3 linked regions of the Homo sapiens genome follow. The protein of the gene in region 2 purifies or fractionates together with the protein of the main gene of each other region. This does not show direct contact. Each region holds a gene or a part of one and is shown on either strand. Other genes may lie near its edges. The genes, in order: MRS2, MINPP1 and UBE2V2.

What was found.
Region 1: the proteins of MINPP1 (region 2) and MRS2 purify together in Homo sapiens (affinity purification with mass spectrometry; 2 studies listed by BioGRID and IntAct, with this or other methods). This does not show direct contact.
Region 3: the proteins of MINPP1 (region 2) and UBE2V2 purify together in Homo sapiens (affinity purification with mass spectrometry; one large-scale study listed by BioGRID and IntAct). This does not show direct contact.

The regions. Positions count from the first base shown.
Region 1 is NC_000006.12:24,419,929-24,423,467, forward strand, and holds part of MRS2 (magnesium transporter MRS2 homolog, mitochondrial isoform b precursor), read left to right. Parts: intron 1-3,008; coding exon 3,009-3,122; coding exon of another isoform or gene 3,123-3,128; exon of another isoform or gene 3,129-3,539. UniProt on the Homo sapiens protein: Magnesium transporter that mediates the influx of magnesium into the mitochondrial matrix and regulates magnesium metabolism. Also permeable to calcium, sodium and potassium ions.
Region 2 is NC_000010.11:87,507,807-87,511,468, reverse strand, and holds part of MINPP1 (multiple inositol polyphosphate phosphatase 1 isoform 1 precursor), read right to left. Parts: intron 3,637-3,662; exon of another isoform or gene 3,265-3,636; coding exon of another isoform or gene 3,231-3,264; intron 3,134-3,230; coding exon 2,936-3,133; intron 1-2,935. UniProt on the Homo sapiens protein: Multiple inositol polyphosphate phosphatase that hydrolyzes 1D-myo-inositol 1,3,4,5,6-pentakisphosphate (InsP5[2OH]) and 1D-myo-inositol hexakisphosphate (InsP6) to a range of less phosphorylated inositol phosphates.
Region 3 is NC_000008.11:48,062,715-48,065,265, forward strand, and holds the end of UBE2V2 (ubiquitin-conjugating enzyme E2 variant 2), read left to right. Parts: 3' UTR 1-1,994; downstream 1,995-2,551. UniProt on the Homo sapiens protein: Has no ubiquitin ligase activity on its own. The UBE2V2/UBE2N heterodimer catalyzes the synthesis of non-canonical poly-ubiquitin chains that are linked through 'Lys-63'. This type of poly-ubiquitination does not lead to protein degradation by the proteasome.

The sequences.
Region 1 (3,539 bases), on a different chromosome or scaffold from region 2:
GTGTGATGCTGGATTCTGTGTCCTCATTAGTCTAACGAGTCTACTCTGTTGCCCACATCACCTCCCATTAGGACCACTATGCCCTTTTAAAAAGTGGTCTTTATAAGATGTAAGTATTATGACACCCTTCTGCATACAACTATTCAATGGCTTTTGATTAGCCTTAGGATAAAAATCCCGTCCTGCCGCACCGACTTGTCCATCTTGTGGGTAGCCACTTGTTACTACCTCTCTCAGTGTCCTTCCCAGACATGCTGCTTCCACTCCTCTCCCCTCAGATCCCCGTTTTGCTTAGTTACTTCCTCCTCATCTTTCAGGTCTCAAAGTAGTTGTCCCTTCACTGAATGCACCGACAACCTGGCCCAGTAAAGTTACTTTGTCGTCTGCGCCCAAATAATCCTACCCTTCCATCTGCTACATTCCTTAAATCTGCAATCCCTTGTTCAAAGCCTGCAAAAGAGCATGAGCTCCTTGAAGCAAAGACAGTATTAGTCATTTTTAATGTAAAGTATAAAAGAAAAGGAAATACATGTGTTCATTCATCTCACAAATACGTTTTTTTATTGCCTGTTATATACCAAGCACTGCTTTAGGCCCATTTAGCAGTGAGTCTGCCCTTGCGTAGGTTATATTGTAGTGGAGGAGAGAGTTCATAAACAAACAAAGTATGTTAAGTGCTAAGTGCCTCAGAGAAAAATAAAGCCAGAGAAGCGGATAGAGAATGTTAGGCAGTAGGATGTGTGGCATTTTAGAGATAGGGTGGTCAAGGAAGATGTAAGGCGGTAACACCCTGGTGGAGGCAGGAAGATCTGGGGGAGAGTGTTCTAAGTAGAGGGAACCACAGAAGTAAAGATTGAGGCAGGAACGATCTGAGCTTGTTCATGAAATGGCAAGAAGGTTGGAATGGTTAGAAGAGCATGAGTCAGGTGGAAAATGAGGTCCCAGATGCAGATAAGTATGATCATGTCAGTGACGTAGAGCGTGGTAGGGGTTTGGATTTCTAAGTGGGATAGGAACCCACTGGAGGTTTGAACTCAAATCTAGATCATTGGAAAGTTCAGAAGCAAGCAGAATACCTTGTGCAACATAATCCAGCCATTGACATTCTCAAAAGATACATCCAAAGACCTTTACAGATTCCCTAAGTGTGACTACAGGACTTTCTCTACAAGTCCCTGTCTTTTCTCTAAATACATAATCATGTTTATGTATATATACTCAATCTACAAGCTAACTCCATTTTATACTTTGATATTTTTCTCTCACTTAATTGCCAACTTTTCAAAACAATGGAAGATTTTTCAAATTCCTTTCTTATAGTTTTAGTATGTGCAATCCTAGGTACAGCACAGCCCATTTGTAATGAGATAAGAGTGGTAGGTGGTAGTGAGCTACGCTTGCTCAGTAGTAGGCTGAAAAGATTCAAATTAATGTCTTATCAGAATTACAAATTACACATCTTTGTAGGTGTCCTGAAGAATAGTTGAAAACATTAAATCCATGGATGTCAAATGTCTTTATTTCGATATAGTTAAAATTAATATTTGCCATGGTGAATCTGAGATAGGAAAAATATTTTAAGATAATTTCAGACTTCTGGAAAAGTTCCAAGAATAGTCAAAGAATTTCCATTTTCTTAAACCAGATTCCAAATATCAACATTTTATCACATTTGCTTTATCATTTCTTTGCTAGCATACTTTATTCTCTAAATTATTTGAGACTAAGAACAAATGTGATGTTCCTTTACTCCTAAATGTCTTAATACGTATTTCCTAAAACATGGACATCCTCTTACATAACCACAGTGCAGCTATCAAAATCAGGAAGTTAATACTGAAGTTATTTTCCAATCTAAAGACCCTACTCAGATTTTGCCACTTATCTCAGTAGTGCTTTTTATCACAAAGAAAATCTTAGATCACATATTGCATATAGGACTGGGGGTTGTGGTTCACACCTGTAATCCCAGCACTTTGGTAGGCCAAGGTGGGCAGATCACTTTAGGCCAGGAGTTCGAGACCAGCCTGACCAACATGGTGAAACCCCATCTCTACTAAAAATACAAAAATTAGCTGGGCATGGTGCCGCACACCTGTAATCCCAGCTACTCAGGGGGGCCGAGGCACAAGAATCGCTTGAATCAGGTAGACGGAGGTTGCAGTGAGCCAAGATTGAGCCACTGGACTCCATCCTGGGTGAAGAGCAAGACTCCATCTCAACAACAACAAAAAGAGGAGGCAGATTTCTGTTCAATAAGTGACATGCATTTCCATCAGTGATAGCTGATCAGTTGTGTAACAGGCTATCTTTGAGGAAGTGAGCTCTCAATCATTGGAGCCAATGATAACAGCATAGCTATAAATGGGATTCCTTCCTTGTGAGAGATTAAATTTAAATTCTGTGATTCTGTACATTAACTAAAAACAGTGTGCTGCAAAATATTACCACTCTGAAAATGACGGTGAGGAAGAATGTTTTTCTAAGTCTGAGGTTCCCAAACTTCCTTGGATCACGATGCCCTTAGTGTCTTAGTAATTTTTTCACAGTATCGGAAGACAAAAAATTTATTATGTTACAGATTCCTTTATGTTATTTCCCTTGCAACTTTAAAATATTCTGAGGTGCTATCGTGCCCAGCATAGCACCAGACATTCAGCTCACAGTTTGAGAACTGTGGATATAAGCAAAGACCTTAAATTGCGTGTCCTCTGGCATCATGACTTAAGATTTGCACGCATGTAAACAAAGGCTGCAAAGAAACACAAAGTAAAAGCAGTACATTTGGCATATAGATGATTTTAAAATATTTAAAACCTTTTAAATCATGTTCTTCTCCTGCTTTATTCTGTGGGTGCTATCAAGGCCCTTGTTTTTCTTAGTTCCTTTCTACAGGAAAGAGCTGTACAAATAACATAAGGCTTTCAAACTCTGGGGCAGTAACAATTCAAGGAATCTTCTAAGGAACCTGGCGTTTTGCGATGGAAATGAACTGTGTTCTCTTTTAGGACCATAGAATTTTTTGGCTGATTACAGGAATTATGTTCATGGGAAGTGGCCTCATCTGGAGGCGCCTGCTTTCATTCCTTGGACGACAGCTAGAAGCTCCATTGCCTCCTATGGTATGAAGGATATGGTTCACGGCGGTATTGTGGAAGGGTTATGATCATGGGCCCTAAAGTCAGAGCGCCTGGGATTAAGTTGTCACAGGCACTATGGCCCTTGCGAGTTGCTTTCTCAAACTTCCTTCAGTTTCCCTATCTGTCAGTTAAGTCGGTATTACCTGCTTCATAGGGTTATGGGAAGAATTAAACAATATGTGTAAAGCACTTACTAGCACACTGCCTAACACAATAAGTTAGAAATATAATTTGTGTAGAACTCTGACAACATACATTTAAACAGATGTTAGTAATTCTGGTATAAGGTTTGTCATAACCAAATGGAAATGTAGGAAACATTTATAACGTTCTTAAAAGATAGAAAATTCACCTCCATTTTCTTTGTACTTGAAGATGGCACCACTGGAATAAATACTT
Region 2 (3,662 bases):
TTTAAAAAACGAAATAGACCCTTTCCCTCCACTCCCCTGAGAAAAAAATAAAACAACAAAAAAGGAAGACAATAGGAAAACATAATAATCTTGCGGTGGGAGGATTCCTAGACAAAATACAACACTCAGAAGCCATAATGAAGAGACAGATATGGCTATGTAAAAGATGTAAACTTCTGTGCAATCAAAGGCACCATCAACAAACCTAAGAGATAAGCAAGAAATTAAAATATTAGCAACATACAACAAGCAAAGGGCGAATCCTTTGTCAGGCAGAATTAAAAGATATAATTAATATATCCATAATACATAAAAGGTATTTGTGATTCATAAGAAAACAAAAATAACCCAATAGAAAATGAACAAAATTATGAAGGGGTAATTTTTAGAAGAAATGCAAATGGCTACTAAACATGAAAATATGTTCACTTTCAGAAGTAATCAAAGAACTGCAAATTAAAGCTAGATACTATTTTTCATTAATCAAATTGGCGAAAATTAAAATGACTAATAATATCTACTGTTGGAAGATATGGGAAAATGAACATTCTCATATACTGTGGATATAAATTTTTACTACACCTTCAGAGAACAATTTAAAAATATATGTCAAGATGTAAAATATTCATGTGTGTTAACCCAGCAATTTCACCTATTTATCTTTAAAAAACATTTTTAGAAATCTATTTATTTATTTGGAGACCAAGTTATAAGACTGGCTAACTTTTGTGTCTTTGATAGAGGCAGGGTTTCACCATGTTGCCAAGGCTGGTCTTGAACTCCTGGGCTCCAGTGATCCACCCACCTTGGCCTCCCAAAGTGCTGGGATTATAGGTTATGCCACGGCACTCGGCCTCACCTATTTTATCTTACAAATAAACTCTCAAGTGTAAAAAACAGACTACAAGAATGTTCACTGTAGCATTACCTGAAAGAGTTAAAAACTAAGAAAAACTTCAGTAGGAAAATGGTTTCTATAAAAAGAATTTGGACTGCATTAGCAACAGCCTCTTACAGCAGTAAAATTCGATGATGGGTTAAACAATTTAACTAGCATTGACTTACAAATCGAGTCATTCATATGTCCCATGAAATAACACAGGATTTAAAAGAATGAGACAGTTCTATATTTGTCTAGAGACAAATATATTGTTAAGTAAAAATAGTAAGTTACTGAAAATACATATAGCATCACCCCCTATGTAAACAAAAGGGTATTTAAATAGCAAAAGTATTTATTGCGCAATTACTGCGCCAGGTACTAAATGCTTTGTATGAATTAATCTTATATAATCTTTGCAATAATCCTATAAGACAAGAATAATTCCCATGTTCATTTTACAGAAAAGGAAACTGTGGCATAAAGACATTAATAAACTTGTCAAAAATCATAGTTATTCAATAGGATAGTAGAGTCAAGATTCAAATGCAAATAGTCCAATTCCAGAATCCATTATTTTAACCACTATACTTAATACTGCTTCCAAAAAGAAGTTGCTGTCAGTTACTTCATCAGTAAAATACATAATTCTTGCCCATTCAGAGACTAAACATAGTTTTAAAAAATCTTTTTCAACAACCTAACTGCCTACTAACAGAATAATGGCTAGATATTGGTATAGATGTAGAATGAAATACATACATTTAAAATGTAGGACTAGAATTGCAAACATTACATCAAAAACAAAAAGTTGCATAAAAATAGAATTTTGGACTGGTATAAACTTTGATACCACTCTTAAAAGTTTTAAAATCTGCAAAACAATATCCCATTTATGTATAAAACTGGCATGGGATAATATAAATGCTCAATTCATGACAACAATTACCACTGGTGAGAAAGGAAGAAGAATGGGATCCAGGAAAGGGACCAGTAGACCTCAATTTATTTAAGGCAAGTAACTGAAGCACAAAGTTAAAATTTAGTAAAACCAAGTTGTGGGTATAGGGATGTTCACCACATTAGCCTTTTTTGTTATCTTCGTGTTTGAATTATTTCCCAATAAAGTAAATAATTTTTAAAGCTCCACAGGCGATGCCAATGTACTGCCAGTTTGGAGAGAGAGAAAAAATTCAATTTCAAATGCTAGTCTAGGCATCTTCTTTTTGATCCTTATAAAGCATCCAGGCCCTGTGACTGATAAATTCTAATCTATTTTTTCCCCAACATCTACTTCCAGTCTTTTGGAAATTAATTCAGAGTATAATGTAATCTACAATCTTTGCATGTATCTTTGTCAACATCTACCCTATGGAACATAAATTCCTAGAAAACAGAAAAAAATCTTATTTTCTTAATCTCCCATTGCTAGGTGACCATGTGCCATGGTTTCCCACCTGCTTTCCTGGCAAAATTATTAATAGTGTTCCCTTTCACTTTCGAAAGTGTCCCACCAGTTTGGATGGTAAGTTGCATAGTCAGCCCATCCACTGCAATAACTTATGATAGACATGACTGCTCATCTTCTCAGCATTGCTACATATAACTCAAAAAACATCATAGTACTTTGCTTTTCACTTTCTAAAACTTACCCCTCTTACACATTAACAGGTACTTTTGAACTGCTTCAAAAGCTAAAGAATTTATATGATTTTTCCATTTGTATCACTTTATCAGGGGGAAATTCAGAAAAGATAATTTGTTTTAAAAATAATGCCTACAGTTGAGGCTTTATATTACTCTGCCCTCAAAAAAACTCCAGAATATAACTAGAATCTTGTACAGTAATTTAAATAACACTCAAAGAAGAATATGAATCTAAAAATGGTAAATAGTAAGCACAAGGTATACAATTTTTTTGACCCAGAACATATTATTTTCTTAATGTAGATCAATTATGGGTCTTTAAAAAAGACTGTTTCCTTATGTTTTCATTTTCACAGTTCAAAATTATTTAAACTGTTAAGTTCAAATAAAAGACAACAGACATATTACCTGCATTTAAATCATTTACTGGCACTTGCAAAGTAGCTGCAACTTTTTTTAAAATGTTCTGCATTTCTGGTCCAGTTTTGAAGGCTTCCACGTGATAAAGAGCTGTAGCATTTTTTTCTACTTCAGTTAAAAACTTCTCACAGTGATCAAAAAATCTCATTAGTTTATCATTAACTGTTGGAGGTCCAAACTCCATATCTGAAAGAGAAAAAAATTTATATGTATTTGTAAATCACTGACATAAATGACAGTTTCAAATTATTGAAAATGTTAAGTGTGAAAAAGGAACACTAACATCTTACTAATCCGCACAGCTGAAATAAGCACATATTGGTCAGGAAACTCTTGGGGTAAAATTATTCCCCATTTATAATGGCTGTAACGCATGAGAATAGCTAGAAAAGGCTAAAGAAATAGAGATTGAAGATTAAATGTGTTGTAGAGATGCTACGCAATGAAATTGCATCATACATTAATAAGTACTGTTTCTGTCAGGCACGGAAAACTTTAGAAAGCAAACTAAAAATCAGCAAAGTTTCTACTTACAAGGTGAGAGAGAATTCAACATATGGAATCTATTTTTTCACTCTAAGCCAAAGTCTAAACAGAGTATTTTATTTTCTCAATTAACCTTCCCAACTCTGTATTACTTTACAAAGATTCTGCTTTGGACAAAAACTACTGACAGCAGCACAAAACGCACTGATGTTTTGGGTCTCCTGTGCTT
Region 3 (2,551 bases), on a different chromosome or scaffold from region 2:
AAGCTTTGAGCTACCTTTTCTTGGCCAATAAAGTCACTGACAGTTTATGTAAACATTAATTTCAACATGGCTGTTGCATTTTAATTATCAAAAATGTTTAAAATGCTTTAAGATGACACATAGAGAACATACACATACATACAAATTAGTGCATTTGTAATTTGTTAAATTTGAAATGAACTATTACCTTGAAATATAGTCTTTAAAAATTTTTAATGGTTAAAGATTAAATTGAATGAAACTGTAGTCTAATGGTAACTGATGATCTGAATCCGTCTCTCTGATAACCTCCTTTCCATTTTGAAAATGTGTCTTATTATACATGGAAGCTAGTAACTACGTGAATGCTGTTGGCAGGATGAGGGTCTGGGTACCTCAGTCTCTTGTCCTGTTTCCTTCCCCCAAATCCACCATTGTGAAGTTGCCAACCCCCTGCCGCCTTCCCCTGCCAAGTACATGTTGTCAGAGTCAGCCCTATAATGTTCATTTCCCCTCTTGTTTGTGGGATTATGGATCTCTGCAGAAATCTGCATGCCAATTAACCCATTTCTAAAGCAGAATCCATTTTGCATGTCACAATCAAGATGTACTTGGCAATCTAAGACACACTGGGAGACTGTAAGAGGAATTAATATAGAAAAGCTCTTAATTATAATAACATTTGGAAGAAATTTTTCCTTTGTTTTGTAAAGTGGCTAAGGTTGTAGGAGTGTGTGGTATTTATTACCTTTTAAATGAACTGTAAATTTGCCTTAGAAATTTGTTTAAAAGGCTAGCAAGTGAGACCCTTGAGGATGATCATATACTAATAAAGATTACCAAAAGAAACTTCTTGTCCTGTTAGGTCAGTGTTATGATTTAATGGTTTTAATTACTTAACCAATTTTAAGAATTGACAATTTTTAAAAATATTTTTTTCTACCATTCTAAAGTAATGTCTTTTGTTGTGGGTTTATGTGTAACTACAGGATTTTGGAACATAAACATTTTGAAGGATAGTCAATGGTATTTAGTCTTGGATATAAAAATAGAGAAAATTTATAGCTTTATGTTATTAAAATAATTTATCACACAGAGTGATTTGAGGTTTTCGCAGAGTAGATTTGTTTGACTCATGGTTTATTAGTCTGGATTACTTAAGAACAATATGTTGATTTTAATGTTAATTCCCACTAAATATATAATATTGATAAATACATGTGAAATTAATATTGTTTGGAAAATGTAGAGGACACAGCTGGGAATTATGAATGCTTTTTTCTTAATAGGTTTGGTGTGTGTGGCTTTGAATGGTTCTGCTGATGCATCATGGAAAGACAGCAGGGAACTGTAGCCTGCCATCAAAACTGTATCAACTCTTTTAATGAGCATGTGACTGTATTAGGTACATTTTGAAGAATATAAGTACTGATGATAAAGTCTAGTATGCATAATAGGATTTTGGAGGCATTTCAGGAATTTTCCTTTTATAGTATGCTTTTTAGGCATCTGTATGTGTAATATCATAGTATCATTTATTGCTGGGATGGATCGAAAAGCACTGCTTTTACTTTTCTGATAAGTATCAAAATGATTTTCCAGTACCAACTTGACTGGCTTTTAATTATTGTCACACACACACAAAATTCAACTCCTCAAGGTTTGGGAAAATTGTGTATTTTTTTGTATACAAGATAAAAGTGTCATAAAAAGGAATGGATGAATTGTTGATAGGAACATTAGCAGTTAATTTTTACCTGATACTGAGTTTACTGTAAAATAGGAAATGCATAGGAAGGAATACCTCCTAAATAATATGCCTTATAGAATGATGAAATCTTACCATAGTTCATACTGAAAATGTTGTTTATTTAAAAGTATTGTGGAGTGTTGAAAATAAAGATACACAATAAGTATTTTCTGAAGAGAAAATTAATGAAGGTATTTAATGATATAGGAAATAAGTGACAAGTTAAAGTCCATTTTGTTTCAATAAAGGAGTTGTGCAAACTCAAGGAGTGAGTTACATGATTGAAAAAAACCATTGGATATGAGGAGGTTGCTATGGTGTTTATATCCTTAATAGGATCTTTTCATCTAAAAAATTCCTAAGAATCTGCTCCATCTCATGTTTAAAATTAAATTTTTTTTTTTTTTTTTTTTTTTTTTTTAGAGACAGGGTCTTGCACTATCACCCAGGCTGGAGTGCATTGGTGCGATCACGATTTACTTTACCCTTGGCTATCCTGGGCTCCAGTGATCGTCCCGCCTCAGCTTCCTGAGTAGCTGGGACTACCGGTGCACGCCACCATGTCTGTTTTTGCTGTTGTTGTTGTTGTTTTGTTTTTTGTTTTTGGTAGAGACTGGGTCTCTGTTGTATAGGCTGGTCTGAAACTCTTGGCCTCAAGTGATCTTCCTGCCTTAGCCTTCCAAATGCTGGGATAACAGGCATGAGCCACCACCCCTGGCTGGCATCTCATATTTCTGTGTAGTCTATAAGACCATCTGAAAAGTTTTTGCTTCAGGTTAATTTGTGAAGTAAATGATAAAGGCTGATAGATGTTGTTTTCTT